Linked DNA regions of Homo sapiens. The protein of the gene in region 6 purifies or fractionates together with the protein of the main gene of each other region. This does not show direct contact. Each region holds a gene or a part of one and is shown on either strand. Other genes may lie near its edges. The genes, in order: LRRC45, CAPN13, OAS2, POLR3E, TRPM8, CKAP2 and MAP9.

What was found.
Region 1: the proteins of CKAP2 (region 6) and LRRC45 purify together in Homo sapiens (affinity purification with mass spectrometry; one large-scale study listed by BioGRID and IntAct). This does not show direct contact.
Region 2: the proteins of CKAP2 (region 6) and CAPN13 purify together in Homo sapiens (affinity purification with mass spectrometry; one large-scale study listed by BioGRID and IntAct). This does not show direct contact.
Region 3: the proteins of CKAP2 (region 6) and OAS2 purify together in Homo sapiens (affinity purification with mass spectrometry; one large-scale study listed by BioGRID and IntAct). This does not show direct contact.
Region 4: the proteins of CKAP2 (region 6) and POLR3E purify together in Homo sapiens (affinity purification with mass spectrometry; one large-scale study listed by BioGRID and IntAct). This does not show direct contact.
Region 5: the proteins of CKAP2 (region 6) and TRPM8 purify together in Homo sapiens (affinity purification with mass spectrometry; one large-scale study listed by BioGRID and IntAct). This does not show direct contact.
Region 7: the proteins of CKAP2 (region 6) and MAP9 purify together in Homo sapiens (affinity purification with mass spectrometry; one large-scale study listed by BioGRID and IntAct). This does not show direct contact.

The regions. Positions count from the first base shown.
Region 1 is NC_000017.11:82,022,163-82,026,355, forward strand, and holds the start of LRRC45 (leucine-rich repeat-containing protein 45), read left to right. Parts: upstream 1-1,142; 5' UTR 1,143-1,481; coding exon 1,482-1,701; intron 1,702-2,115; coding exon 2,116-2,177; intron 2,178-2,530; coding exon 2,531-2,601; intron 2,602-2,837; coding exon 2,838-3,016; intron 3,017-3,216; coding exon 3,217-3,345; intron 3,346-4,193. Other genes in the region: CENPX (centromere protein X), read right to left, coding at 664-699. UniProt on the Homo sapiens protein: Component of the proteinaceous fiber-like linker between two centrioles, required for centrosome cohesion.
Region 2 is NC_000002.12:30,804,477-30,808,697, reverse strand, and holds the start of CAPN13 (calpain-13), read left to right. Parts: upstream 1-1,251; 5' UTR 1,252-1,396; intron 1,397-2,431; exon of another isoform or gene 2,432-2,517; intron 2,518-4,221.
Region 3 is NC_000012.12:112,977,185-112,981,457, reverse strand, and holds the start of OAS2 (2'-5'-oligoadenylate synthase 2), read right to left. Parts: upstream 2,940-4,273; 5' UTR 2,850-2,939; coding exon 2,673-2,849; intron 1-2,672.
Region 4 is NC_000016.10:22,324,663-22,328,413, forward strand, and holds part of POLR3E (DNA-directed RNA polymerase III subunit RPC5), read left to right. Parts: intron 1-542; coding exon 543-604; intron 605-1,098; coding exon 1,099-1,616; intron 1,617-2,008; coding exon of another isoform or gene 2,009-2,098; exon of another isoform or gene 2,099-3,751. UniProt on the Homo sapiens protein: DNA-dependent RNA polymerase catalyzes the transcription of DNA into RNA using the four ribonucleoside triphosphates as substrates.
Region 5 is NC_000002.12:233,920,296-233,924,046, forward strand, and holds part of TRPM8 (transient receptor potential cation channel subfamily M member 8), read left to right. Parts: intron 1-3,751.
Region 6 is NC_000013.11:52,461,727-52,465,477, forward strand, and holds part of CKAP2 (cytoskeleton-associated protein 2), read left to right. Parts: coding exon 1-200; intron 201-636; coding exon 637-841; intron 842-3,568; coding exon 3,569-3,739; coding exon of another isoform or gene 3,740-3,748; exon of another isoform or gene 3,749-3,751. UniProt on the Homo sapiens protein: Possesses microtubule stabilizing properties. Involved in regulating aneuploidy, cell cycling, and cell death in a p53/TP53-dependent manner.
Region 7 is NC_000004.12:155,366,829-155,370,579, reverse strand, and holds part of MAP9 (microtubule-associated protein 9), read left to right. Parts: intron 1-1,767; coding exon 1,768-1,994; intron 1,995-3,751. UniProt on the Homo sapiens protein: Involved in organization of the bipolar mitotic spindle. Required for bipolar spindle assembly, mitosis progression and cytokinesis. May act by stabilizing interphase microtubules.

The DNA.
Region 1 (4,193 bases), on a different chromosome or scaffold from region 6:
CCACTTCCAGGAACAGGGAAGAGCAGGGCACGCCCTCCAGCCTGGGCGGATCCTGGCTCAGACGGCCTAGGTCTGACCCTAGCCCTGCTGAGTCACTTAACGCCCCCGTGCCTCAGTTTCTCCACTGGCAGGTGGGGTTAATCCCTGTCAAGTGTGTGTAACGTGGAGCACCGAAGAAACCACGCGTTCCTAGCCCAGTGCTGGCGCCCACCGGGGAGCAAACAAAAGGGAAACCACTGTGCCTGGCGGCTGGGGTAGGTCCTGCCGGCTCCTCGGGCTGGACGATCTCACTGTCCCCGTCCTGGGGCCTCATCTCCCCTTAACAAAAGACCCCAGGCTCAGGGCGCAGGGCGGCGGCCCAGCTCCTCCTCTCTCTTCGCCGGCTTGGACTCCGCCGTGACGGCGCCCACCCCTGCCTGTTTCTGCAGACCCTCTCCACCTTCCCGCAGCCCCGGCTGCTCCACGCCCCCTCCTACCAGCTGCGAGACACCAGCCCACGAGGGCGCGGGGCGCGCGGCCCGGCCGGAGATGGAGTCTGAGAACGGGCCCAACCTCAAAGGCACAGGGGGCGGCGCGGGGGCTGGCGTCTGGCCCTCACAGTGTCACGCGTGAGGTCGGGACGGAGCGTCCGCGCCTGCCTAGCCCCTGCCCTCCGGCCCTCACCTTCCGGAAGCCGGATCCAGCTCCTGCTCCCTCCATGACCGCAGCCTCAACGCGCGCCCACCGGAACCCCGCCCCGCGCCTCCAGCCAATGAGACCGGAGCGCGCCCCCGGAGCCCCGCCCCGCGCCCCTAGCCAATGAGTCCGAAGCGCCTGCTCTCGGAGCCCCGCCCCCACGTCTCAGCCAATGAGCCCGGAGCGCGCCCTCCAGCAGCCCCTCCCTCACGTCCCGCAGCCAATGAACTTGGAACGCGCCCTCCCGGGGCACCACCCTCACGACCCTCAGCCAATGAGCCCGGAGCATGCCCTCCCGGGGCCCCACCCTCATGCCCCTAGCCAATGAACCTGGAGCGCGCTGCCCCCTCTCAGCTTGCGGCCCGAAAGGCGCGCCAGTTCCTTTGTTCTCATTGGCCCGCACCAAGCGCTGCCTGCGCAGAGCCTGCTAGGAGTTGTAGTTCCCGCGGCCTCTCCCGGCGCGCCTTGTTCTTCCTGGATACTGAGGCCCCGACGCGGCTGTCGCGAGGGCGGGGGTCGGGGCTGCAGGCGGGGCAGGGCTGGGTGGGGGCGCGCGACGCACCTGCCTGCTTCCTGCACGGGTGGTCCCCAAGCACTGCGGGGCCCCAGCCCAAAGCGGACCTTGACTACCGCCCAGCCCCGCGCTCCCAGGACCTCCCGCCCGCGGAGCCCACTCGGATTGCTCTCCGCCCGGGTCGGCGGAGGCCCCGTCTCCTGTACCCGGCGCTGGGACTGCTCCGCACCGCGCGGCTCCCTTTCAGCAGCTGCGGGAGCATGCGGAGGAGGCCCTGCCGGCCCCGCGGGTCATGGAGGAGTTCCGGCGCTCCTACAGCCGCCTGTGCAGGGAGAGTGGGGCCGAGCCCCAGGAGGCTGTCCTGCAGCAGCTGCACCAGCTTCCCAGGGGCCGGCTGGACCTGGCCACGCAAAGCCTGACGGTGGAGACCTGCAGGGCCCTGGGCAAGCTGCTGCCGAGGGAGACGCTGTGCACGGAGCTGGTCCTGAGTGACTGCATGCTCAGCGAGGAAGGTGGGCAGGCGCGGCGGGGTGGATCCCTCTGCTCCTTAGCTGCCCACACCATTGCCTCGGCAGCCCGAGGTCGCTTCCTCTCCAGGCTCTCCAATTTCTGTGCCGTAGTTAAAGCGAGCAGGGGCGCCCCTTCCTGCACCTGGGAGTAGAGGGCAGTTCCTCTGTATGACGGGGGAGAGGCCTTAACATTCGCGGTCTTACCTGGTTCCCCGCGTGCAGAGCCGGCTTGGTGCCTGGCAGGGGCTGCAGGTGTTTCAAACATGACTTCGCAGCGAGACTCTTGGCCAGCGCCAACCCAGACCATCGGGACAGTTGTCCCTTCCTGGGTCTAGGGAGCTGCCCTGAAAAGGGGCCCACGGGGAGGGCCTTGGGGTCAGCAGGGGCAGAGAGTGACCGCCGGCCCCCCTTACACAGGGGCCACACTGCTGCTCCGAGGCCTGTGTGCCAACACCGTGCTGCGCTTTCTGGACTTAAAGGTGAGATACCTGCACTCTTGAGTGTCCGAGTGTGCCACCCAAGGGCAAGAGGAGAGGTGGAAGATGCCAGGTCTCGGGGGCCTGGGGTCTGGGCAGGTGGCTGGAAGCTGTCTGTGAGTCCCCAGGCCGCTCTCTGATGGCCTCCTGTGTGTGACCATCTCCAGAGCAAGAGTTCACATTGGCAAACAAGCCGGCCCTTGGAAGCCCCCTGAAGACAGGGAGCCCAGGAGCTGAGGAAGGCTGCAGGGTGCACCCCAGGCTTGTCCCCTGGCTGACCAAGGCCCTTGGGGCATGGGCGGGAATTCAGAGCCAGTCAGGGCACGCGAGTGACTACCGGCCTGTTTCTCTCCTAGGGCAACAACCTTCGGGCTGCAGGGGCCGAGGCTCTGGGAAAACTCCTCCAACAGAACAAGTCCATTCAGAGGTGGGTGGTGGTCCCGACCCCAGGCCCTGTCTCTGTGTGGTTGAGGATTGGCCCCGAGCACATGCTTCTGCAGCCCAAGAGTTCCCCATTGCCAGGTGCCCATGTTTCACATACGTTGGCAGGGGTAGGCAGAGGCTCCGGCCCATCAGACCCCAAGCCCACACCCGTCCCCAAGCCCTGGACCCCACGGGCTAGGCAGTCCCCTAGGTGAACACTGGCTTCTGCCCCTCCTGCAGCCTCACGCTGGAGTGGAACAGCCTGGGCACGTGGGACGATGCCTTCGCCACCTTCTGCGGGGGCCTGGCGGCCAACGGCGCCCTGCAGCGGCTGGACCTCCGCAACAACCAGATCAGTCACAAGGGCGCGGAGGAGCTGGCCCTAGCCCTGAAGGGCAACACCACCCTCCAGCAGCTGGGTGAGGCCTCCCAGGCGCCCTCAGGCTCCCTCATCCCTCTGAGGCTGCCTCTGCTCTGGGAAGTGAGGGGCTAGGGGACTGGCCTGTGCTCCTGCTCTGTTGATGACTGCAAGGCAGTGCCCCCTAGGGAAGCACCCCGGCCAGGCCAGCTCCCCCTCTGCCAGGTGCATTCTGTCTGGTGACTACAGGTTTCCTTCCAGACCTGCGCTGGAATAACGTTGGCCTCCTGGGGGGCCGGGCCCTCATGAACTGTCTCCCCAGCAACAGAACCCTGTGGAGACTGGACCTGGCTGGGAACAACATCCCTGGAGACGTCCTCAGAGCCGTGGGTACGGTGCAGGGCTGTGTGGAGTGACGCGTGAGCCTTTGACAGAGGCCTGTCCACCGAGGGCGGGGTGCCGGGCTCAGGACGGGAACTGATGAGGAGAGCAGCCTGAGAGCCCAGGGGAAGCAGGAAGGAGCGGAGGGGTCGTGGGGCACCTGTTTGGCACTTGAATGGCGTTCGCCACACATGGGCACTGTCCGAGGCGCCCTGTGTACTTGCTGAGTTCTTAGGACCTGTGCAGTGGAGGGTGCCCGTTTCACAGCTGGGGAAGCTGAGGCCGTGTGGCTCACAGTCCTGGCCTTGGTGGCTTTGCTGATGCTTCGGGTGGCCCAGGTCTTGGCCTTGGCCAGGAAGGCTCCCTGGTCACCCTGAGTCTGTGGCCCTGCATGTGAGTCAGGTGAGGTGGGGCCCCCTGGCTTGTGCTGGCCTCCACACATTCCCTCCCACCAGCGACCCCGAATCCTTGCAGCTGATGTCTCAGCCTCAGGCCCCAGTGCCCCAGACTCAGCTGGGGACTTTGCCAGGCCCCCCGTACTCCCTAATCCGCGCACAGCGGCAGCCTCTTCCAGCCCCTGTGCTGAGGGCTCATCCCTCCTGCTGGTTCTGCCTGGCCTCTGACTCCAGCTGCGCCGTCCCTGGCTTCGCCTCGGCACTGCCCTGGTTGTTGTCATCCCTCCTGACCTCTGCCCCCTCGCCACATGCTACCCAGATCTTTCCAGAACTGAGCTGGGCACAGCATTTGCCTCAGCATTGTGCAGTGCCCCTTGACCTTTGGGATGGTGGCCAGATGCCCCAGGATGGCCCTTGCCTTTTGCGGTGGAGCAGCTCCCACCACCTCTGCCCCACATGTGC
Region 2 (4,221 bases), on a different chromosome or scaffold from region 6:
ATTTTCTTGAGACACTGTCTTGTGATATATCCTTGTGGGTAGGGCTTTCTGAAGCATTTTCTCACCATTTTTTTCTGAAACTATGGCTTTCCAACATTTTTCATTGCATGCTCTATTAGTAAAATCATTTTGAACATGCACCACAGATATCTGCGTATTTATTCACTGATGATGTTTATGCAATAGTGTGTGTGTGTGTATTGTTTACTGTATTTATAGTGAAATTTCTAATAGAAGGTGTCCGCTGGGATGCAGGAATCCCACTAAACAAACACAAGGCAGACAGGGTAAGCATCATAATCCTCAGCTCACGGATTAATAGACTAAGATGGGAAGGGACTTGCCCAGGTCACACAGCCAAAAGTTGCAAAACTGGGGTTAAAACTCATATCCATACTTTCCAGCTTCTCAGATTCTTCATTCATGTGCCAAATATCCCTTTCTACTCATCAGAATTTGGGAATGGACCAGTCATAACAGTTTTTGGTGATTTCCACATTGTTTCCCTGTTTTACCTATTTTATCATTATTGCCTATAGCATAGGGTGTGCCATGCGATCAGGGTTCTGGAACTGGCTTCTAAAGAGCACTTATGAATGGGGATGAAGAACATCAAGGAATTAAAGATGCCAGAAAAGCAAATAGCCCCTTGGATTTGAGAACAGGAAACATGCACTTTACACGCCTCATCTCTTTCTGCCCCATCCAGCAAGCAGGGATGATGCAGAGACCTTCCCTGGGTCTCGCCATGCCCAGGAGTTAATGTGTTCTACAATGTATTTGTAGAAAGAAGATACTGCGTCTAGTAGAAAGAGATGTGATATGATTGACGTGGAGTGGCCACTCTTGATGCAGGAGACATGGCAATTGTACTTTCCTGTATGAGAATGAGGCCTGAAGGAAGGTTGCTTCCCTCAGTCTTTTCTCAGCAGAGGGGTTTTGTAAAACAAACCAAAACAAAACACAAATTCCCTGAAGCAGAATAAAGATAAAGAAACTTAAATATCTGGAAACAATGAAAACTGCAAGAGCCAAGAAACGGGCAGCTTAGGGGCCCCAGGAAGTGAGGTGGGATAAGGCAGAGATAGGCTTGGGGCGGAGAATCTGGAAGCTGTTGCTGTTTACATTCAATGTCCTCTCTCTCTCCAAGAGGTGGCAGGCCACTGCCCAATGCTGAAGTCACTGTTTAACGAAGGTGGAGCCTGCCTTTACCTGGTACACCCATATAAGGAAAAGCCTGAGGTCAGGAGTAAGCAGACACCAGCACTGCTCTTTCTCCAAGACGGCCGGCCATGCTCTCCTCCTCTGCCAGTCTCCTCCACCACTCTCTAACCTGAGAGCCTGTGGAACCTGCCCGTCTCCCCTCCTCCATCAGACACACCTGCCTAGGAAACAGGTAAGTTGTGCGTGGTCATGTCCCAGAGCTGTGGACCAAGGCAGTCCTCTAAACATTAGTGAGCATGTACAATTTTCTAGAGAGCTTCATGATGTCGCTTCTGAGTTCCCACCTCCCAAGGTACATATTCAGTAGCTCTGGAAGCTGGGTTTTTTTGATGCAGGTGGTCCAAGGATATGCTTTAAGAAAAACTAGGGCAAAGTGGGAGTTAATTTTCTAAGAGAATCTAATCCAAACTTTGCATATTTCATGCAAAGAGAGTATTTCTTAATCATTCTGTCACCTTCGATTTCTGATCATTCTAAGTTGTGACCTTGAGGGCTGTGTTCACCGTAAGGGACACATTGATGGCAGAAATCATGTCTTCTTTGTGCACTGATGTGTAGTTTCTGTTAGATAGTAGGTGCTTAATAAACATTTGCTAAAGGGAAGAATGGGACCTGGGCCCTTTGTTTTCTAATCATCTAGCTTATTAGTTATAGGAATGAAGTTGACAACTCTGGGTTAATCACAAAAGACAGATCATTACAACTTCAGAGATTCAGGAGGTTCCTATATGCCTCTAGTGGTGTCATGGTCACACACATGTGTCTCTGTAACTGCTAAAGTTATGTAATCTTTGAGATGTGATGCTGTTCTCAGGGAGACAGTTCCAGCTGCTCAGCTTGGACCCAAGTTAACCAGATTAGAATAAGTGCAGATATTTTCCCTCTATAGTTACAGTTGGGTCATGAACTACTGACTGTCCCATTTGTCCTGGGTCACAAACACAACTTTGGTTACCCCCGAGTGGCATTAACTAGACTTTCAATCAGATTATCCTCTTGAATTGTCTCACCTTTGTACCCACCTTGACATAAGTATTGTGGGTTTTTGTTGTTGTTGTTGTTGTTGTTGTTATTTTGAAGGTTGGAGGAGTGACAGCTGTAGGGAGGCTTACTTATTAGTAGATTGGTTGATGGAAATGTAATAATCTACCAACTGTGTAATAGGCAAAAGCTATATATAGCATGAGTTCATTATCCCATTTTGTAGATGGAAAAAGTGAGGGACCGGTGAGTGACTTGCTGCAAAAGTTTATACCAGATGCAAATGACAGAGCTGGAGTTCTGCTGTGCCTGGTAGGTACCCTGTCTTGTCCCCTAGTTATTTGGTTGTATTCAGTTACCCTCTTGAAAGAACACCTTAGAAGAAAAGATGCTATGAAGAAATGCACACATTAAGCCAAGCACTGTGGCTCACACCTGTAATCTCAACACTTTGGGAGGCCGAGGTGGACAGATTGCTTGATCCCAGGAGTTCAAGACCAGCCTGGGCAACATGGTGAAACCCTGTCTCTACAAAAATAAATTAAAAATTGGGGGTCTGGGAAAAAATATTAGCTACATGTGGTGGTGCACACCTGTAGTCCCAGCTATTGGAGGCAGGGGGAGGGGTCCATGGTTGAGGTGAAAGGATTGCTTGAGCCCAGGAGGTTGAGGCTTCAGTGAGCTATGATCATGCCACTGCACTCCAGCCTGAGTGACAGAGCAAGACCCTGTCTCAAAAAAAAAAGACCAACCTACTGGCCCTGAGGCTCACTCCGTATCAAGCATTGTGCTTGATGCTTCCATATGGTGAGCTGTGTGATTTGGGGCATGCTCCTTAACCTCTTGGGGGTCCCAGTTTCCTCATCACTAAGACATGGTAGCAACAGTAATCTACCCCAAAAGATCAGTGAAAGGATCAAATGAGATCCTATATGGAAAGCACTTAGCAGTACTTGAGCACATGGCAAGTGCTGAAGATATTTTAGTCATTATTGTTGACATTATTTTAGCCTGGGTTCTCTATAAAACAAAGCCTGAGGCAAAGCTTAAGTGCTACTTAGCACTTAAGGTAAGACACCAGGGGAGTGAGAGTCAGGGAAGTGGGAAATGGGAAGAGAAAAAGGGGAAGCAGTGAGGGATGATGTGCCACCACCTGGCCTCTCTTCACAAAGAGACATGACCAGCCACTTGGCCAAAGCAGGGCCCCTCTGGACTGGCGTTGCAGATGCATTGTGCCTTGGAAGAGTCTATCCGAGCAAGGGTAGAGAGGACATTTATATGTTGGCTCACTCTGTCTCCTCTCTTATTGTTCAAAGCTTGCCCTATGGGGAGTTAACTGTCCTGCACTTCCAGCTTGTGTCTTCTGACCCCTGTGGCAGCCACTGGGAAAACTAGATCTAATTGCTAGAGGCTTGGCACCTCATCTGAGTCCAGAAGTGGTCAGAAGAGCCACTTCCTTGGCTGGAGTAAAAAAGGGACCAAGAGTCCTAGAGACAGGTTGAGGCTAAGAGAACCTGAGATGGCACCTAAGAAAGGTTTAATAAAGACTGAATTATCATTAATATCTGCTGAACACTGCGTACAGCACTAATGTTCCTGCCTAGATGTCACCTCTTTCTCCCATGAGAAAACCATAAAGGGGACTTTGGATAGGCTGGTCCATTCCATCTCTCCTCAAGGTTTGGAAGAAGTCAGGTTGAGGGCATCCTAACTCTCTCAGAACGTCCATGGTGGAGCATGCCACTGATAGACAGCAAGGAAGTCCACGGCCATGCAAAAGATGGGAGCAGAATCAAGAGGAGGTGTTGATTTTCTACCACCCTTGGGACTCTATCTTTTGGTCAAGTGTTTCCTAAAGCATGGTATACATAGAACACTAATTTTGGGGGCTGTTGCTGGGGGCTCCTTGATATAAAGCATTTATGATCAAATATTTGGATGAATGTTGCCTCCTACTCTTCCCTCCTCAGAGAGTTATGATTCCAATTTACTTAAAAAGGCTCTGTTCACGCCTGT
Region 3 (4,273 bases), on a different chromosome or scaffold from region 6:
GGTGTTGGGAAAACTGGATATCCATATGTAGAAGAATGAAACTAGGCCCCCGTCTGTCATCTTATAAAAAATTAACTAAAAATGGGTTAAAGAGTTAAACATAAGGCCTGAAATGATAAAATTAATAGAATAAAGCAGAAGAGTAATGCTTCATGATATTGGTCTATGCAAGTATTTTGTGGCTAAGACTTCAAAAGCACAGGCAACAAAAACAAAAAATAGACAATTGGGACTATATTAAATGAAAAAGCTTCTGCACATCAAAGGGAACAATCAAGAGTGAAAAGACAAGCTGTAGAATGGGAGAAAATATTTGGAAACTATTTTTCCAACAAGGGTTTAATATCCAGAATATACAAGGAACGTGAACAACTCAACAGCAAAGAAAACAACCCATCCCATTAAAAAGCAGCCAAAGGGCCTAAATAGACATTTCTCAAAAGAAGACATACAAAATGGCCAATGGGTATATGAAAAAATGCTTGACATCACTAATCACTAGGGAAATGCAAATCAAAACCACAATGAGATACCATCTCACCCCAGTTAGAATAGCTATTATCAAAAAGACAAAAAATAAACGCTAGCAAGGATTTGGAGTAAAGGGAATCTTACACACTGTTGGTGGGAATGTAAATTAGCACAGTCATTACGGAAAACAGTATGGAGGTTTCTAAAAAAAATAAAAATGGCACTGCCATTCAATCCAGCAATCCCACTACTAGGTATTTATCCAAAAAAGGGATAACTGCACCCTCATGTTTATTGCAGCACTATTCACAAAAGCCAAGATATGGAATCAACCAACGTATCCATCAGCAGCTGAATGGATAAAGACAATGTAGTATATATACACAATAGAATACTATTCAGACACAAAAAGAATGGAATTCTGTCATTTGCAGCAATGTGCATGGAACTAGAGGTCATTATGTTAAATGAAATAAGTCAGGCATAGAAAGACAATATTGCATGTGTTTATGTGGAAGTTAAAAAAAGTTGATCTCATGGAGGTAGAGAGTAGGATCATAGTTACCAGAGGCTGGGAAGTAGAGGAGGAAATGAAGAGAAGTTGGTTAATGGATACAAACATACAGTTAGATAGAAGGGATAAATTCTAGTGTTTGATAGCACAATGGGGTGACTATAGTTAACAATAATTTATTATATATTTCAAAATAGTTAGAAGAGAAGATCTGAACTGTTCTCAACACAAATAAATGATCAATGTTTGAGGTGATGGATATCCTAACTACCCTGATCATTTCACATTGTATCCATGTGTCCAAATATCACATGTACCCCATATAAATATGCACAATTATGTAAAAATAAAAAAACACAGTAGAATGGACAAATGTGGAATATTCACATAATGGAATTGACACAACAATGAAAAGATAAACAACTGTACCCCACAACATAAATTTCATAAACATCATAGGTCAGAGAAACCACGCACTAAAGCACACAGAGCCCATGATGCCATTTATGTAGGGTTCACCCATGCATCCTGGTTTACATTCCCAGCTTTCACACCAAGAGTCCCACATCCCAGGAAACACCCCAATCTTGGATGAACTGGGATAGTTGGTCACCCTATAATTGTAAAACGTTTAAAAACAGGCAAAACGTGTCTATGCTGTTAGAAGTCAGGAGATTGCCTACCTGGGTTTGGAGGTGCTGACTGGATCGGGGGCCCAGGGCTCTGGGGGGCTGAGAATGTTTTGTTTCTGGATCTGGGTGGGGGTTACACAGTTACATTGTTTGTGGCTACCTATCAAGCTGGACACTTTGATCTGGGCACTTTTTCTGTTTTACTTCCATGAGGAAAAAAAAATTGAGAGGCAGGATAGTGTAGTGGTTAAACATGCATGCCCTCAAGCCAATTACCCAGGCTTAAAATCCCAGTTCTGACAATAGCTATTAACCAAACTTGCCTTAGCTTGCTGGCCTGGGCCAGGGCTGGGGACACCACGTGTCTAGATTTCTTTATTGAGGCACTAGCGGATGTGTGCAAGGGGTAGAGACCAAAAAGTGTGGCAGCAGCAGAGAAGGGACGTCAGCAGCTCAGGAGGCTAAGAGGATAGTATTGGGCCATCAGGACCCCCACGCCCCCAATTCTAGGGTCCTGGCATCTCCCCAGTCCCCCTTCCTCCCCAGAGGTCCAGAATTTTCAGCCTCAGTCCTGAGATTTGTGTCCACAAAACCAAATATTTCTAACTGATAAAAGCCACTCCTTCTTGCTGCGGAGAAACCACAAGGCAACCTGGGTAGTTTGAACAAAGTTCTCTAGCCTCCCTAAGTTTACTCCTCTGTACTGTGGAGAGGATAGAAGAAAATCGCAGTGAGTAATCACAGTGAATTCACTGAGCACTGCCAGTCTTTTGCTAAGAACATGATGTGCTCAAGCCTTACGATACTCTGAAGTGGGTATTATGCCTCTCCCCATTTTACAGAGTCAGAGACTGAGGCACAGAGAGGTTAAGTAGCCTGCCCAGTGTCACACAGCTCTGGAGCAAGCGCCTGCTCCAGAGCCTGAGACTCCTACACCACATCCCACCCAAGTGTGGGCCTCGCACATAATAGGCACCCAGCACCCAGTAGCTCGGCCTTGCTGCCGCCGTGGAATCTCCTGCCTCCCAGAGACCCAACCTCAGCCCTGGACTCACTATGGCCACTCCCTGCACCAGGGGGAACTGTTCGGGTTCCTGCAGGACGTCACAGATGGTGTTCACCATCTCGTCGATCAGTGTCTGACATTCTTCGTAGGGCTTCAGGTATTCCTGGATAAACCAACCCAGCTTCTGAGCAGGCACCGAGGACAGCTGGGACTCCCCATTTCCCATTGCTCTCAGCTGGCTGCCGGCAAGACAGTGAATGGTAGGATGGGAGGCAGAGGAATTCTTGCTGCTGCCCAGAGCCAGGAAACTGAAACTGAAGTCTAGAGGCCTCTCTCCACCCACTGCAGCGAGCTTACCAACTCTTGTATCCGGGACAGGGAAACAAAACTAACTTAAGCTCAGAGGCTCTGCCCTGCCCCTTGCAGTGAGTTTACCAACTCCTGCATCCGGGGCAGGGAAACCAAAACTAACTTAAGCTCAAATGCTCTTCCCCGCCCCTTGCAGCAAGGTTTACTGACTCCTGCACCCCAGCAGGGAAACCAAAACTGACTCAAGCTCAGAGGCTTTCCCTGTCCCCGGCAGCGTGGTGACCAGCCCTTCAGGGGCTCCCCAAAACTTGAGGTTAACTAAACAGCCTCTAGAACCCCATTGTGAGGGCTTCATACCTGCTAGATGTCTGTCCTTGAGCACATCGCCTGCCCTCTTCGCGCCTCAATTCCCCCATCTGTAAGCTGGGGGAAAATGGCAGCTCTCTCGTAGGATTAGCTTGATGATTAAATAATACCTGCAAAGTGCTTAGAAGCAGGGGCGCACAGGTCATCTTTTGAGGCTCTGTCCCTTTCCCCCTGTTCTCAGTGGCCAGGGAACTCACATTCAGGGAAAGCGGCAGAGAGGAAAAAGAGACCCAGAGAGGGAACTGACTTGCTCAGGGACACACAGCAAAGCAGGGACCTAGCTGGACTCAGGTTTTGGTCTGCTTCTGGGTAAACACAGGCCCCCGTGTGGTCAGCGGGTGGGAACCTCTGTGTGTCCAGTTTCTCAGCACACTTGTGGACAGCCGAGGGACCGTATGAGGCACTTGTCCAGCCTCGCAAGGGCAAGAAAACACACCCCAAGTGTGTGAGCCAGAAAGGAGACAGACATGCAACTCCTGTGCCCAGAGCTTTGAAAACAAAACTCGCAGAGGACTCCCAGCCAGCTGCCTTGGCCCAGCAATAATAATTCACAGAGAAGGCAAAAATCTCCAAGATGTAGTGGGGGACCAGGGCCCTTCCATACTGGGATGGTTAATTTTATGTGTCAAGTTGGCTGAGCCCAGGTACCCAGATATTTGGTCAAACATTATCCTAGATCTTTTTGTGAAGGTATTTTTTAAAGATAAGATTAACATTTACATTGGTAGACTTTTTTTTTGAGTAAAGTGGATTATCATCTGTAAGGTGGTGGGCCTGATTCAATCAGTTGAAGGCCTTAATAGACTAAAGACTGAGCTCCCCCAAGGAAGAGGGAATTCGGCTGCAGTGCCTTGGCCTCCACTTGCAGCAGCAACTCCTTCCTGGGTCTCCCACCTGCCAGTCTACCCTGCCGATTTTGGATTTGCCAGCCTCCACAATCACATGAGCCAATTCCTTAAAATAAATACCTCAAAA
Region 4 (3,751 bases), on a different chromosome or scaffold from region 6:
AAGCACCCTGGGCCAGGGAGGGGCAGCCCGGTGATCCCAGCAACCCTGCATCCTGGGGAGCACTGTCAGGGTGGATCCGAGCAATCTCTAGAAACCCCACATCTGGGGAGAGCGCAGTTGGGCTGGATCTGGGTGTGAAGGGCAGGTGGGGGTCCGCAGGCCCCACGCTCCTCACCCACACTGATAGGCATTGCTGGCTGATCCCACCATCCTTTCAGCACAGGACACACAGCCAGTACCTGCTCATCAGGGTGGCCGTGCTCTGAGGGCTCAGGGAAGAGGGATGTGATGGAGAGAGGGAGCACTCAGGAGCAAGAGCTGGGGCCTGGGGACCAGAGGGGTGTTGGCAGAAGACTGATGGGGTCTGGGTGGTCCTGGGGCTGTGCACTCTGCCAGAAGAGGGACTCAGTAGGGCTGGCTGAGCTCCAAGCCTGCGCTGTCAGTAACCAGCGTGTCCTGGGGCCTAAGGGGTGGTTGTTTCTCTTGTGAAGCAGATGGTAGGGGACGTGGTTTAAAGTTAATGGGGTTACTCTTCTTTTCAGACTGGAAAAAGTCTATAATCTTGTAAAGGAAACCATGCCAAAGAAGCCGGATGCACAATCAGGTGTGTGAGGGGCTTTGGGCTGGGAGGCCCCGGCTCCTACACTGTGGCTCCGGAAGGGCTGCTGTGCTAGAGCTTGTCAGGCCCGGACCTGGAGAGGGTGGAGGGCTCTCACCGTTCACCCTTCACCCTCCTTCCTTTCCTGCCACCCACAGACCGCAGCTGGTCGCTTGCCCAGCAGCAGAGCCTCAGGGACGGAGGCTTGCGGATTCCAGGGCTGAGTCTGGGTTCCAGGTCTCTGAGGCTCACTCACCCTCTTGGGTCAACAAGCGGGCCCGGAAGAGCTGCTGGGGGGAGGAACTCAGCAGCACCCTTCCCCGCATGACTCTCGGCACGCTGGGACGGTTCTCTCTTCCACTGATGGGGTGGCTGATTTTCGAGAAAGGTTGGGGATGAGACCAGGACGGGACCACTTGCTGCAGCCCCGCGGTCCCCTGCTGGGCTTTTGGCTTCAGATCCCTGTGCCCTCCTGAGCAGTGCTGCCTCCCTCCCCGCAGGGCCTGCCGGGCTGGTCTGTGGGGACCAGCGGATCCAAGTAGCCAAAACCAAGGCCCAGCAGAACCACGCGTTGCTGGAGCGGGAGCTGCAGCGGCGGAAGGAGCAGCTGCGGGTGCCTGCGGTCCCGCCCGGTGTGCGGATCAAGGAGGAGCCCGTGAGCGAGGAGGGCGAGGAGGACGAGGAGCAGGAGGCGGAGGAGGAGCCCATGGACACTTCCCCCAGCGGCCTCCACAGCAAGCTGGCCAACGGGCTGCCTCTCGGGCGGGCTGCGGGCACAGACAGCTTCAACGGGCACCCGCCCCAGGGCTGCGCCAGCACCCCTGTGGCTCGGGAACTGAAGGCCTTCGTGGAGGCCACCTTTCAGAGACAGTTTGTGCTCACGCTGAGCGAACTCAAGCGCCTCTTCAATCTGCACTTGGCCAGCCTGCCCCCCGGCCACACACTCTTCAGCGGCATCTCGGACCGCATGCTACAGGACACGGTGCTGGCCGCCGGTTGCAAGCAGATACTGGTGCCTGTAAGTAGAGCCCTGCCTGCCAGGGGCATGGGGGGTGGGGGGTGGGGAGAACCAGCTGTTGGGAGGCCACGTGGGGACACGGGAGGCCATGCTTGGTGAGCATCTGCTCTCACGTGGGCCTAGGTGTGACATGGGCAAGTCAGCCTCTCTGAGGCTCTATTCTCATGAAATGGGATCATGTTGGGTTTTATGTCACAGGACTGTGGTAGGGGCTAAATACGGTGTCTGAAGGCCCGGCCTATTGCCTGGCCTGCAGCAGGGCCTAGTGAAACAGGGCCCCTGCCTGGTTTCTCACCCTGTCCCCCACCAAGAACACCTGTTTCCTACTAGCTTTGCCATTGTTTGGAATGATTTAACTTCTAAGATCGTTTGATCTTCTTTGCAATCTGCAGATGAAGAAACTGAGGCTCCAAGGAATGAAATGTACGTTTAAAGGTCACTACCTAGGAGGTAGTAGAGCTGGAATTTGGACCTCAGTATAGTGGCCTGGAGTTTTGAATCCTTTCTGCTCAGCTAAGATGAGCTGCTTCCCCACAGCTGCGCCACGCCCCAGCTTGGGCCTGGGTCCTGGCGGCCTCCCTGTGCATCAGAAGCAAGCTGACCAGCTCAGCGCTGTGCTCTCAGCACTTCCAGTGCCAGGCCTTGAGTGTGGTATTGCAAGCCTCCTGCCCCTTCCCCCTGGGCTGCTTTTCTGTCACTGGGAGGGGCCCTGACGGGGGAGCAGAGTGCTTGCTGGGGACCGTTTCCCTGCGCTGAGGATAGAGAGCGCCAGGTGCTGCCTGAGGCACGCCTTTCCCGTGCTCCTTTTCCACAAGGCTCTGCCCAGACCTGGCAGCAAAATGGGGTGAGGTGGGGCTGTGGTGGTCTCTAAGAAAGCATTGATGTTTTCATTGCCAAGGTCAGGAGCGGGCCTGCAGCCTTGGGTGATGATCTGAGGCCAAGGCCCATCCCTGTGTATGAGGAATAGAAACTAGGACAGGAGGCCTTGTGGAGCCTAGGCTGTCTCAGGGGATCGGCCCTGCTGGCAGGCAGCCCCCTGTGGGAGGTACTGGCAGAGTTCGGAGCTCCTGCCCACCCAGCACATGGGTCTGGGTCTCCACAAGCTCACCTTTCTTCATGAGCTGGGCCAGGACAGGCAGGACACCTGCCTGACATTAGTTGTTTTGGGCCGCTGGAGTGGACAGAGGTGAGGGGTGGGACATGGCCACCCTCAGACACCCTCACCCCTCCTTCCGGACCCCCTCTGTCCATGTTGCTTTGGGGTGGGGCCAGCGTCTCCAGGAGACACCATGGCCCTAACTGTAATGCTCTCCTTGCCATCCTGACAAGGAGACTGTATTGTAGTCACATCCAAGACGTAAGAGACCTCCGATCCCAGCCACCTCTGTGTTGTACATGAGGGAGCTGAGGTCCAGGGCAAGTGAATAGATCGAGAACTTGACTTGAACTCCTGGTTCTGCTGCTTATTAGCTGTGTGACCATGGACAGTGAGCAAACCTCTCTGAGCTTACTTTTCCCCATGTACTACCTCCCCAGTTTCTAATGCTCAAATGCAAATGTGTATTGGAGGCCTCACAGGGCTTTTACTGGTAGTAACCATTATTGCTACTTGTGTGATGGAACCAGGACTGGAAACTACCATCCCAGATGCCCCCTCCCCTGTCCCCTTCTCTCCAGGACCCAGGCCTGTGTCACACTTGTCCTGGTCTACCTTTGGACCAAGTGGCCTGGATTGCTTGGGAGTCAGGCAGTGCCTCTAACCCACACTGACATGGTACATGTGGGAAGCAGTTGAAAAGAACCCCCAGGGTACCCCAAGAGTTATGGGGAAGGGGGCGCCCCTCCATCAGGGTTGGCATCTTCAGGAGGGAGGACTCTGGGTGTTAAAGCACAGTTGAGTTGGTGCCAGGCTGATGGGAAACAGACGCAGCTTCCCCACTGTACGGAGGATATCTGCAGACTCGAAGCCGGGCATTTCACTGGGCCCATCACACTCCCCCTCTCGCTGAAGCCCTGTCAGGCCCTGGGGGGTGTGCTGGCCTCCTCCCCATGGTGAGGTGAGAGGCACAGGTTTGTGGCTGCCCAAGGCCCTCAGAGATGGTGAGTAGCAGAAGCTGGGATTGGAACCCATGTTC
Region 5 (3,751 bases), on a different chromosome or scaffold from region 6:
TACTGAGGTTATCTCTATGGTGGTCATTAAGATTCCATTAAATTCATCAGGCCCATTTGAAATTTTTGAGAGTAAAGACCATGAATAGAAATAATTGAGATTATTGATTAAAAACATGAAAGCAAAGATTGACATAGTTAAACAAGTAAATCCTAGAACTGGACAAATCCTTAGCTATCTCTCTGTGAAGGTCCCTTCCTTTGGGCCTGCCATGGAGATAATTCCATTGAATTTTACTTTCATGGCATAGCTTCAACTTGCATTCAGGACATTCTAAGAAATAGCCAGGCTAAGTTTAGTGCTGTAAGTCTTGCATGGCTGTGCAGGGATATTTACCACTATGTGGCCCAGTGTGCTTTTGGCATAGGCATTTTTCTTTTAACTTATTATTTTGAGATAATTATAGCTTCACAGGAAGTGGAAGAGGAAAAAGCATAGAGAGGGTCTGTGTACTCTTCACCCAGTTCCCCTCAATGGTGACACCTCATGTAACTATCATACAAGATTAATACCAGAGAATTGGCATTGGCACAATGCAAAGGCTTTATCAGATTTCACCATTTTTTTTTTTTTTTTTTGAGATGGAGTTTAGTTCTTGTTGCCCAGGCTGGAGTGCAATGGTGTGATCTTGGCTCACCGCAACCTCCGCCTCCTGGATTCAAGTGATTCTCCTGCCTCAACCTCCTGAGCAGCTGGGATTACAGGTGCCCTTCACCATGCCTGGCTAATTTTTTGGTATTTTTTTAATAGAGATGGGGTTTCACCATGTTGGCCAGGCTGGTCTCGAACTCCTGACCTCAGGCGATCCACCCGCCTTGGCCTCCCAAAGTGCTCGGATTACAGGCATGAACTACCACGCCCGGCCCCAGATTTCACCACTTGGACATGCATTCATTCATGTGTGTATAGTTTAATGCAATTTTATCACGTCAGTAGATTCGTATAACTACTGCCACAACCGAATTTTGGAACTGTTCCATCACTAGAAAAGCCCCTTCACTCTGCCCCTTTACAATCACCCCATCCTCCTCATCCTACCTGTCCCCAAATGTAGGAGTTCTTTTCACCCTGGCCTCTGTATCAGGGAATGTGGGTTTGAAGTTAGTTTATGGATGCCTTGAAGCTTGTAATTGACTATGTTCATCCTGTCAACCTAAAATAATCAAAAGGCTCAGGATCCAATTAAAAGAGTTTATTCAAGTGCAAAGATGAGGGCCGCCATCCAGACAGCAGAATGACAGCAAAGGATGGTGATCACTGCACCTGGGATGGGGAAAAGGGAGAATCATTTATACAGGCAAAGCCAGAGGTGCCGAACAGAAACACATTTTCTTTTTTCTTTTCTTTTTTTTCTTTTTCTTTTTTCTTTTTCTTTTCTTTTCTTTTTTTTTTTTTTTTTGAGATGGAGTCTTACTCTGTCACCCAGGCTGGAGTGCAGGGGCGTGATCTCGGATCACTGCAACCTCCCAGGTTCAAGGGATTCTGGTGACTCAGCCTCCCAAGTACCTGGGATTACAGGTGCCCGCCACCACACCCAGCTAATATTTTTGTATTTTTAGTAGAGATGGGATTTCGCCATGTTGGCCAGGCTGGTCTCAAACTCCTGACCTCAAGTGATCCCCCTGCCTTGGCCTCCCAAAGTGCTGGGATTACAGGCGTGAGCCACCATGCCCGGCCAGAAACACATTTTCTGTATGAAGGCTACTGTACAAATGTAAGATTTGATTGACTACTACTGTTTATACTCTAAGGGGGTTGCTTAACAGTCTATTGTAAAGAGGTTACAGTCGCAAGGGTCTCTGTCTCCAACATCAATTAAGTCTAGGTTAGAATGAAGGATAGGGAGTCCGGTTAAGGTAGAACATCTCCATCTGGTTTTGCACAACCCTTGCAAAAGTCAGTCAGCAAGGGTTGTGCAAAAATAGCTGTGCTATGTGACTCTGTTTTCAGAGCTTCACTTTTCCCCTTGGCATAATCAACCTGGAAGGTCCTAAAATTTTATTTTCTTTTTACAATCCCTTTGCTTTGGCCATTGGTAAGTTTAGGGCATGATTTCTAGTGCCCCCTGAGGACCTTGGAACAGGCTTCCCCTGTGGCTGGATAAGCTCCTCACTTAACCAGTCTCTTTCTCTTATTTTATCCTCAGCTCATTTATTTCTCTTTGGTTCCTTTGCTTTACATAATATTTTAGTAAGTTTCTTCAACTCTTTCTGCATTGAGATAAAATATAAACATTTAAACTGAAAAAAAACCTCTACCACGTCATCTCTACTTATTATTTATATCTGACATTTTCCCTCCAGCCTCCCTGTCTCCCTTTCCAGAGCTGCCTAAAGTTATGTGAGTGTTTGCCTTCCTTGTTCCCCATTCCTGAGTGTGTCTTTCTACTGCCCTCACAGCTGAATTGACTCAGGATACAATTCCTAGATCACAATCTTTTCCCTCTTAAAAAAATGTAAACACTGTTCCATTTTCTTCTAGTTTATAGTGTTGAAGAAGAGAAGTTTTATACCAGCCTGGTTTTTCTCCTTTAGTAATTTTTTTCTGCTATATTGCTTGTATGTTTTTATGTTTATTCTTTTTTCTTTTTTGAAACAGAGTCTCGCTCTGTCACCCAGGCTGCAGTGCAGTGGCACGATCTCGGCTCACTTCAAGCTCCGCCTCCCAGGTTCACGCATTCTCCTGCCTCAGCCTCCTGAGTAGCTGGGACTACAGGCACCCGCCACCACGCCTGGCTAATTTTTTTTGTTGTTGTTGTTAGAGATGGGTTTCACTGTGTTAACCAGGATGGTCTCGATCTCCTGGCCTCGTGATCCGCCTGCCTCAGCCTCCCAAAGTGCTGAGATTACAGGTGTGAGCCACCGTGCCCGGCCATTTTTATGTTTATTCTTATACTTAAATGATTTCATCTGGATACCTCTGGCCCTATTAATTTTGCTTGGCAGCAGACCCAGTGAGGTTTTTATTGTGAAGACTCAAATCTTTCTTTATCTTGGGGAAGATTTATTCTGTTGATTTTCTGATGACTGTCTCTTGTAAGTAGAACATTCTTTTCTTTGGAAAGGCCTGTTACTGACATGACAAATCTCCAGTGTTCTCCATGGCTCCTCTAGCAATGGCCACAGCTAGGTGTGGTGCAGCTGTACCAAGGTTTTCCCTCCTTGGTGGGGTGGGCTAAAGTGGAGGGACACAGCCCCATGTCCCCTGCTGCCGTGCTCTGCCTGCCCAATGCTGCCGGCACCAGGTTACCACGCAGGGCTCCATGGGCCGGCATCCACTGCACATCTCGAGCACATCCTCTGGTTTGACATGGGGTCACACGGTGCTGCCAGTCTTTGCCACACTTGATTAGGGTGCCAGCTTCATTAGAAGTAAGGACGACTGTCAATTAAGCATTTCACTCATGGGTCTTGAGACTTCTAGTCTCAGCTTCTGTCGTGCCTGGGGAAGCACCTCACTCTCTCTTCTGCCTGGGGAGGCTGTAACTAGAAAACAATAAAACAACAACAACAACAACAAACTGTCCAGAGCTGGAAAAAAACAAAAACAGCCAAAATTGAGTTTGCATGTAAAGAGGCTTACAATCAATGTGAAAATTTCGGACCAATATCTGGTTAGAATCAGTAAACCATCAGGACTTCAGAATAAGGGGAACATGCTGGGCAGAAAGAAGAGCAGGGAGGCTGCAGTCAGGATTTTCTTTACCAGATCAAAACTCTAATAAAAACAACTACTTTTACAGTGTTGGGGG
Region 6 (3,751 bases):
ACCAGTTCTTCTCAAGGTATAATAAGAAATAAGACTCTATCAAGATCCATAGCATCTGAAGTTATAGCCAGGCCTGCTTCATTGTCTAATGATAAACTGATGGAAAAGTCAGAGCCCGTTGACCAGCGAAGACATACTGCAGGAAAAGCAATTGTTGATAGTAGATCAGCTCAGCCCAAAGAAACCTCGGAAGAGAGAAAGTAAGTAGATATAATTTTCTTTATTACATTAGTTTTCAATAAAGTACTGTTTGTAGATTTGGATTATAATTTCCTTGACTGCATTAGAATTTTCTTTCATGGTTTCTCTTCTGTCATATGCAGGCAAATTTATATTGTGGAACAATATGACCTAAAAGTTTTTGTGTTTGAGTATGTTTTATAAGGTTGCTTTTTAAAATCTAAGGTAAATGCTTAATAATAATTGGGAAATACTTTATAATCTCAAATCAAAAAATGCATTCATGGAATCATTGAGCATAATTGACGTTGATATGTTTAATATTTCTTCAAGCTTGTGAACTATATATGCCATTAAAGTAAGATTACTTAAAAATATGATTTTTTCTTTTAACTTTATTTGACAGAGTTCTGTCAGCAATTTCAAAGTAACGTTTATATCTGCTTCTAACTATAGAGCTCGTCTGAGTGAGTGGAAAGCTGGCAAAGGAAGAGTGCTAAAAAGGCCCCCTAATTCAGTAGTTACTCAGCATGAGCCTGCAGGACAAAATGAAAAACCAGTTGGGTCTTTTTGGACTACCATGGCAGAAGAAGATGAACAAAGATTATTTACTGAAAAAGTAAACAACACATTTTCTGAATGCCTGAACTTGATTAATGAGGTAGAGTCTTTATATTTGCTTAGCATTTTATAGTTTGCAAATTACCTTCATAAGCATTATTTCATTAAATTATATTGTCAGTCTTTTTGACCAGGTGATGTTGGTGATACTATGTTGACTTAACATTAACTGTGAGGTTATTTTAACAATTATTTAATTGCGAGATACACTGCTTCATTCATTAATTGTGAGCTTATTAGCCTTTAACTGACTACATTTTGCATTGAGTTCATATAAATATACAGGTTGAGTATCCCTTATCCAAAATGCTTGGGACCAGAAGTAATTGAAGATGTTTTTTGTTGGATTTTGGAATATTTGCATATACATAATGAGTTATCTTGGGGATGAGATCCACAAAGTTCATTTACGTTTTGTTTGTTTGTTTGCTTTTGAGACAGTCACTCTCACCCAAGCTGGAGTGCAGTGGTGTGATCTCAGCTCACTGTAACCTCTGCCTCCTGGGTTGAAGCCCTTCTCCTGCCTCAGCCTCCAGAGTAGCTGGGATTACAAGTGTGCACCACACGCCTGGCTAATTTTTTGTATTTTTAGTAGAGACAGGGTTTCACCATGTTGGTCAGGCTGGTCTCAAACTCCTGACCTCATGTGATCCACCCACCTCGGCCTCCCAAAGTGCTGGGATTACAGGTGTGAGCCACTGCGCTCGGCCTCATTCATGTTTTATATACAGCTTATACACGTAGCCTAAAGATAGAATACTTTTTATAGTTTTGTGCATGAAGCAAAGTTTGTATACATTGAACCATTAGAAAGCAAAGGTGTCACTTTGTCAGCCACCCATGGGACAGTCTGGTTGTTTGGCAACACCATCATTCCTCACTCTGAATTTCCATGCTACCAATAAGCAATTATTCTCTTACATTTATTCACACATAATTAATTAACAGTTTAAAAAAAGACACATTAATACAGTGAAAAATATGTTCAGAGTAATTAAGCAGCACAGTAGCATCATCAGAACGCCTGTATCAGCTGTTAGACAATAGCAACAACAAACAGCAGCACGTTTTCAATCTCCATCTATGATGTTGTGTTTAATTAAGAGGTATTTTACACCGTGTTTTATTTTTTTAGGTGAGAAGAAACACCAGAAGCAGTTGAGGGACCAGGAAGTGGGTTCTCTAGGGATAAGGAGGCATTCTGCTGGGTGGCTTTTTAAGATATTTACTTCAGAGTCATCTGCCTCATTAGCAATGGTTTTTGTCTTAGAAGTTTCTCTTTGATTTTATAAAGGGACATGATTTCTTTTTCTGTTCTGGATAAATGCTGCTCTAGTTCTTCAGTAAGCCTGTTGCATACTTTCACCTTGTCGCCTGTAGGTACATTTTCTGCAGTGTTAATGATGGTCATCTGCATTGTGATGTTGATACTCAAAAGTTTTGGATTTCAGATTTTGGATTTTCAGATTAGGGATACTCAACCTGTATCAAAGGGATAATTGGGTTTTTTTACTGAATTACAAATATTTGATTTCTCTGAGCTAATTAATATGTAATACACTGAGGTGATATTTACTTACTGCTTCTAATATTTTGTTTCTTACATCTATTCATTATATTTACACATTATTTTTTACGTTCATTACACATTTTACCAAAGACTAGCAACACAAATACTGTGTGAGTCATTATTATCACAGATTAAGTTACCTAAAATACTCAAAAAAAAAATCCCATTCATCTGGTCAGGTGGGGTGGCTCACGCCTGTAATCCCAGCACTTTGGGAGGCCAAGGCGGGCGGATCACCCAAGGTCAGGAGTTTGAGACCAGCCTGGCCAACATGGTAAAACTCTGTCTCTACTAAAAATACAAAAATTAGCTGGGCATGGAGGCGGGTGCCTGTAATCTCAGCTACTCAGAAGGCTGAGGCTGGAGAATCGCTTGAACCTGGGAGGCAGAGGTTGCAGTGAGCCGAGATTGTGCCGTTGCACTCCAGCCTGGGCAACAAGAGCAAAACTCCGTCTCAAAAAAAAAAAAAAAAAAAAACAATCCCATTCATCTAAGCCAACATCATCATGTTTTTGAATTTATTGCAGAATTTTGCTATTTGGACCAAAATCCTATGGAGTATAATAATCAGCTCCAGAACAATATTCTGTTTAATAATAGATAATATCTTTGTTTCCTGACTGCTCTTTAATCTTGTTTTGGTCACCCACTAGTGTGTAAGATCCACAGCAAAACTGAATTCAAGGTATGATTTCAAACTTTACTCTTCATGAGCATCTTTTAACTTCTTGTGGTTCTGAACACCAGTAAAAGTTACAATCAGGAAAACTCTTGAGTCTCTAATAGAATAGAATTAGAGTTTATTTCTGCTCAGTTTAAGTTTTTCCTTTTGATACTATGAACTTTTTCTGCCCTATTATTTAATTATATGTAACTGTGACATAAACCATTACAGATTCATTTTAATCTTAATATCAAAACCTGATAAAGACGAGGAAAAAAAACTCCGCAGACTATTCTTACTCATAAACATTTGGTAGAAGGTATTAACAAATGGAATCCCACAATATATATGAGGATAAAATCAAGATCAAATAAGTGTTCATTTTTTACTAATAAATTTCTCAACTAATGTTTCATTTTTTTGCTTTATGCTTAGGGCTATCGTTATCATTGATCTTGACTATAGTAGGCTCAATTATTGTTCCCACTTTGTAAGCTAAAAAATATTACACACATTTTTTCTTGCTTTTTTAGGGATGTCCAAAAGAAGATATACTGGTCACACTGAATGACCTGATTAAAAATATTCCAGATGCCAAAAAGCTTGTTAAGTATTGGATATGTCTTGCACTTATTGAACCAATCACAAGTCCTATTGAAAATATTATTGCAATCTATGAGAAAGCCATTCTGGCAGGGGCTCAGGTAAGATAAAAA
Region 7 (3,751 bases), on a different chromosome or scaffold from region 6:
CATTTGTCAGGAGGAGAAGCAGGAAGTGGATATTCTAGGCAGGGGGATCAGCTTAGGTAAAGGTATGGTAGCAGGAGGGATTGGAGGGATTGTGGTATGTGTGCATGACAACTGTTAGCCCAGCATTTCAGAAACACAGATGACAAAATGGCTGTAGATAAGGCAGTGAAGGACAAAACCATAAAATCCGTTTTATGTTGTTTAAAGGCAGTTAAGCTTTTATTCTGTAGGATTGGATCATGGGGAGCCATTGAATAATTTTGTAGAAAGGAGTGATGTGATCTGATTTGGATTTTGTAAATATCATGGAAGCAGTGATCTAGGAAAGAGTGGATAAGGACCCGACAGCAGGGATGTAGAAAGTGGAATAAATGAGATATTTGGCAATTAGAATTGATAGGATATATTGATACTCTGGATTTAGGGGATAATAGAGGGAGGAATCTAGAGCCCTTGGATTTGGGGTTGAACATTTGGCTGGAGTTTAGGATGTAGCTAAAATTGTCAGCTACTTATAATAATACCAATTTGGTATGGTTGTGGAATCTTCTGGCAGAATCCATAAGCCCATTTTTAGGTAAATGGGAGGAAGATGTTAATTAGACCAATTTTGAAGTTGAGAAAAATGCATTTGTAGAACAATAGAAACATAAATATGTATAGCAGGTAAAATGCAGGCAAAAAATATATACATGGAAAGTCTTCCCATTGTTTCGAATACTGGATGCAAATCAGCATTTGATTCTTGATTTAAACTTAGAAGTAATGGAAAGAGTGAAATTTTAATAAATGCTAAAGAAGTTTTATGGACTCAGAACAATTAACTCATAAAAGATTCCTTCCTCTAATGAGAGTTAGCACTCCTATCCCTTGAGTGCCAACATCATCATCTTTGTCCTTATAATAGCACTTATAATCTTAGTAATCTAGTCTTGTAATTTTGTTTAGAAAAATCAACCTGTAAAGTACCTGGACAGGTCCATTGCCGCTTTGTTGATTATGAGGTTTAGTAACGTGTACAGGGCTTGGTACTCAAAGGCTTGATGGATGAGCCTCCTCATTTTATAGTGGTAGAAACTGGGGCAAGATTTTGTTTTGTTTTTTTATTTTTAACATTTTTTTTTTAATATTATAAGAGTTCACAATGTTGAAGAGTTAACTTCTTGTGACTGGTTACTTTCAGGATGACAACTGTTTCTTTACTTTGTTTTTTTTTTGTTGTTGTTGTTGTTTGGTTTTTTTTTTTTTTTTAGATGGATTTTTGCTCTTATTACCCAGGCTGGAGTGCAGTGGTGTGATCTCGATCTCGGCTCACTGCAACCTCAGACTCCTGGGTTCAAGCAATCCTCCTGCCTCAGTCTCCTGAGTAGCTGGGATTACAGGCACGCGCTACTAAGCCCGGCTAATTTTTTTGTATTTTTAGTAGAGACAGGGTTTCACCGTGTTAGCCAGGCTGGTCTCGAACTCCTGACCTCATGATCTGCCCACCTCGGCCTCCCAACGTGCTGGGATTACAGGCGTGAGTCACCGCTCCCAACATGTCGGGATCACAGGCGTGAGCCACCGCGTCCGGCCTGATTATTAACCATCATTTATTTGTGCCTTACTAGAGCTCTGTATAGAGAAGAGTTGTGGGCTTCATCTGGACTCTTCAGGACAGAGAACAAAGGGGCATAGGCACAGGAGGGAAGTATGGTAGCACCCAGAGAGATAGATAAAGCCATGGTCATTTTTTTATACACACACTTTAAGCATTTTATTTTTCAGCAGAAAACAACAGCCTTGACACAGATGATCACTTTAAACCATCACCTCGGCCAAGGAGTATGTTGAAAAAGAAAAGTCACATGGAGGAGAAGGATGGACTAGAAGATAAAGAAACTGCCCTCAGTGAAGAATTGGAGTTACATTCTGCACCTTCTTCCCTTCCAACGCCGAATGGCATACAATTAGAAGCTGAGAAAAAAGCATTCTCTGAAAACCTTGATCCTGAGGTTAGCACTACCACTAAACTGTTGAATTGTGTTCTTGAATTTATGCTTTTTTATCTGATTATGAAAAAGAGAAGGAGAGAATGAATTTGTGTGCGTGTGTGTGTGTTTTACATACTTTCTTCTGCAACTGATAAGGAAATAATTTTTAAAAATACACTGTATTCCACCGAGTCTAAAACTGCATCAATTGTAAGACGTAGCATTATTTTACATACCACTAAGGAAGAAGGAAATGCATCCAATTAAACTATAACACACCAGTGATTGTAGAGTTTATCCAGTTTTAGAGAAAGTAAAATGTCAAAAAGTGTTGCTTTTCTGAATCTATATAATAGTGTTTATCTTTAATAATTTTTTAAATTTATGTATCTTTGAATTATGTAATTTATGGCTAAGAACAATATAGTCAGTGTCATTTTATTTATTTGATTTTATTCACTCAACAAATGTGTGTTGAATGTTCATGGCACTCTTCTGTGTTCTTTGGGTTATGTTCCAATAGCATTAAATGTGGCCTTTCAGGTTTCCATCAGGGAATTTACTATGCATTGTTATTAAGGGAGAACACTTCGTTTTTCTCTTTGTATTTCACTATGAGAAGCAAACTGTCCCTTCTGAACATTTCAGAAGGGAAAAGTACAGGAAGAACATTTCTTCCCCATAATCTGCTTGGGCAGATTAGGGAACTGCATGCCACCTGGCCAAGCTTCTTTCTTTTTCTCATCGCTTGTCTGCAGTGTTGGTGCTTAAGGATCTGCTCTCTGGGAGGTGAGGCAGAAGGTGCTGAGAGGAGCTCTTTTGTGCAATGACTAAATGGGGGAATCCCCCTAATTCAGACTGGAAGTATTAGGAAGCACAATAGGCTACCAATTCAAATCTTGTTCTGCAGTTGAGCTTTACCAGTAAAGCTGACAATTTGATATACGCCTAACTGACACCACCATGCTGTTTCTTAATTTGTTCTGAAAACCAGAAGAAGAAACCCAAGCAAATACTTTATATTTAAGAAAATTATCTGATCCATTGAATATTGTGCTAGTTTCTTGTAGCTGCTGTAACAAATTGCCACAAACTGGTTAACTTAAAACAACAGAAATGTATTCTCTTAGTTCTGGAGGTCAGAAGTCCAAGATCAAGGTGTTTGCAGGGCCATTTTCCTCTGAAGGCATCACGGAAGAATCCTTCCTTGCCTCTTCCAGCTTCTTTCTAGTGGTTGCCAGCAGTCCATGGCATTCCTTGGCTTGTAGCTGGCTTGTAGCTGCATCATTCCCTTCTCTGCCTTCATCCCATGTGGCCTTCTTCCCTGTGTTTTCTCTGCATGTCTGTGTCTCTTCTTTCTCTTAAAAAAAGACACCAGGCATTGGATTTAGGGCCCACCCTAATTGAGTGTGTCCTCATCTTATCTATTTAAAGCTGTAAACACCTTATTTCCTAAGAAAGTCGTATTTTGAGGTTCTGGATGAACATGAATTTTGGGGCATTAATGTTCGTATGTTAAACCTAGCATTCCCGGGATAAACTCTGGTTAGTCATGGTGTGATATTTTATTGTGGGATGTGATTTGTTAAAATTGTGTTAAGGTTTGCATCTATATTTATGAAGTCTATTGGTCTGTAATTTTTTTCTTATAATGTTACCATCAGGCTTGGGTATCAAATGAGTTGGGGAGTGTCTTTTCTTCATTTTATAAAAGTTTGGTATCATTATTTTCTTAAATGAGAGGATTCACCAGTACAATTATCTGGGCCTGGAATTTT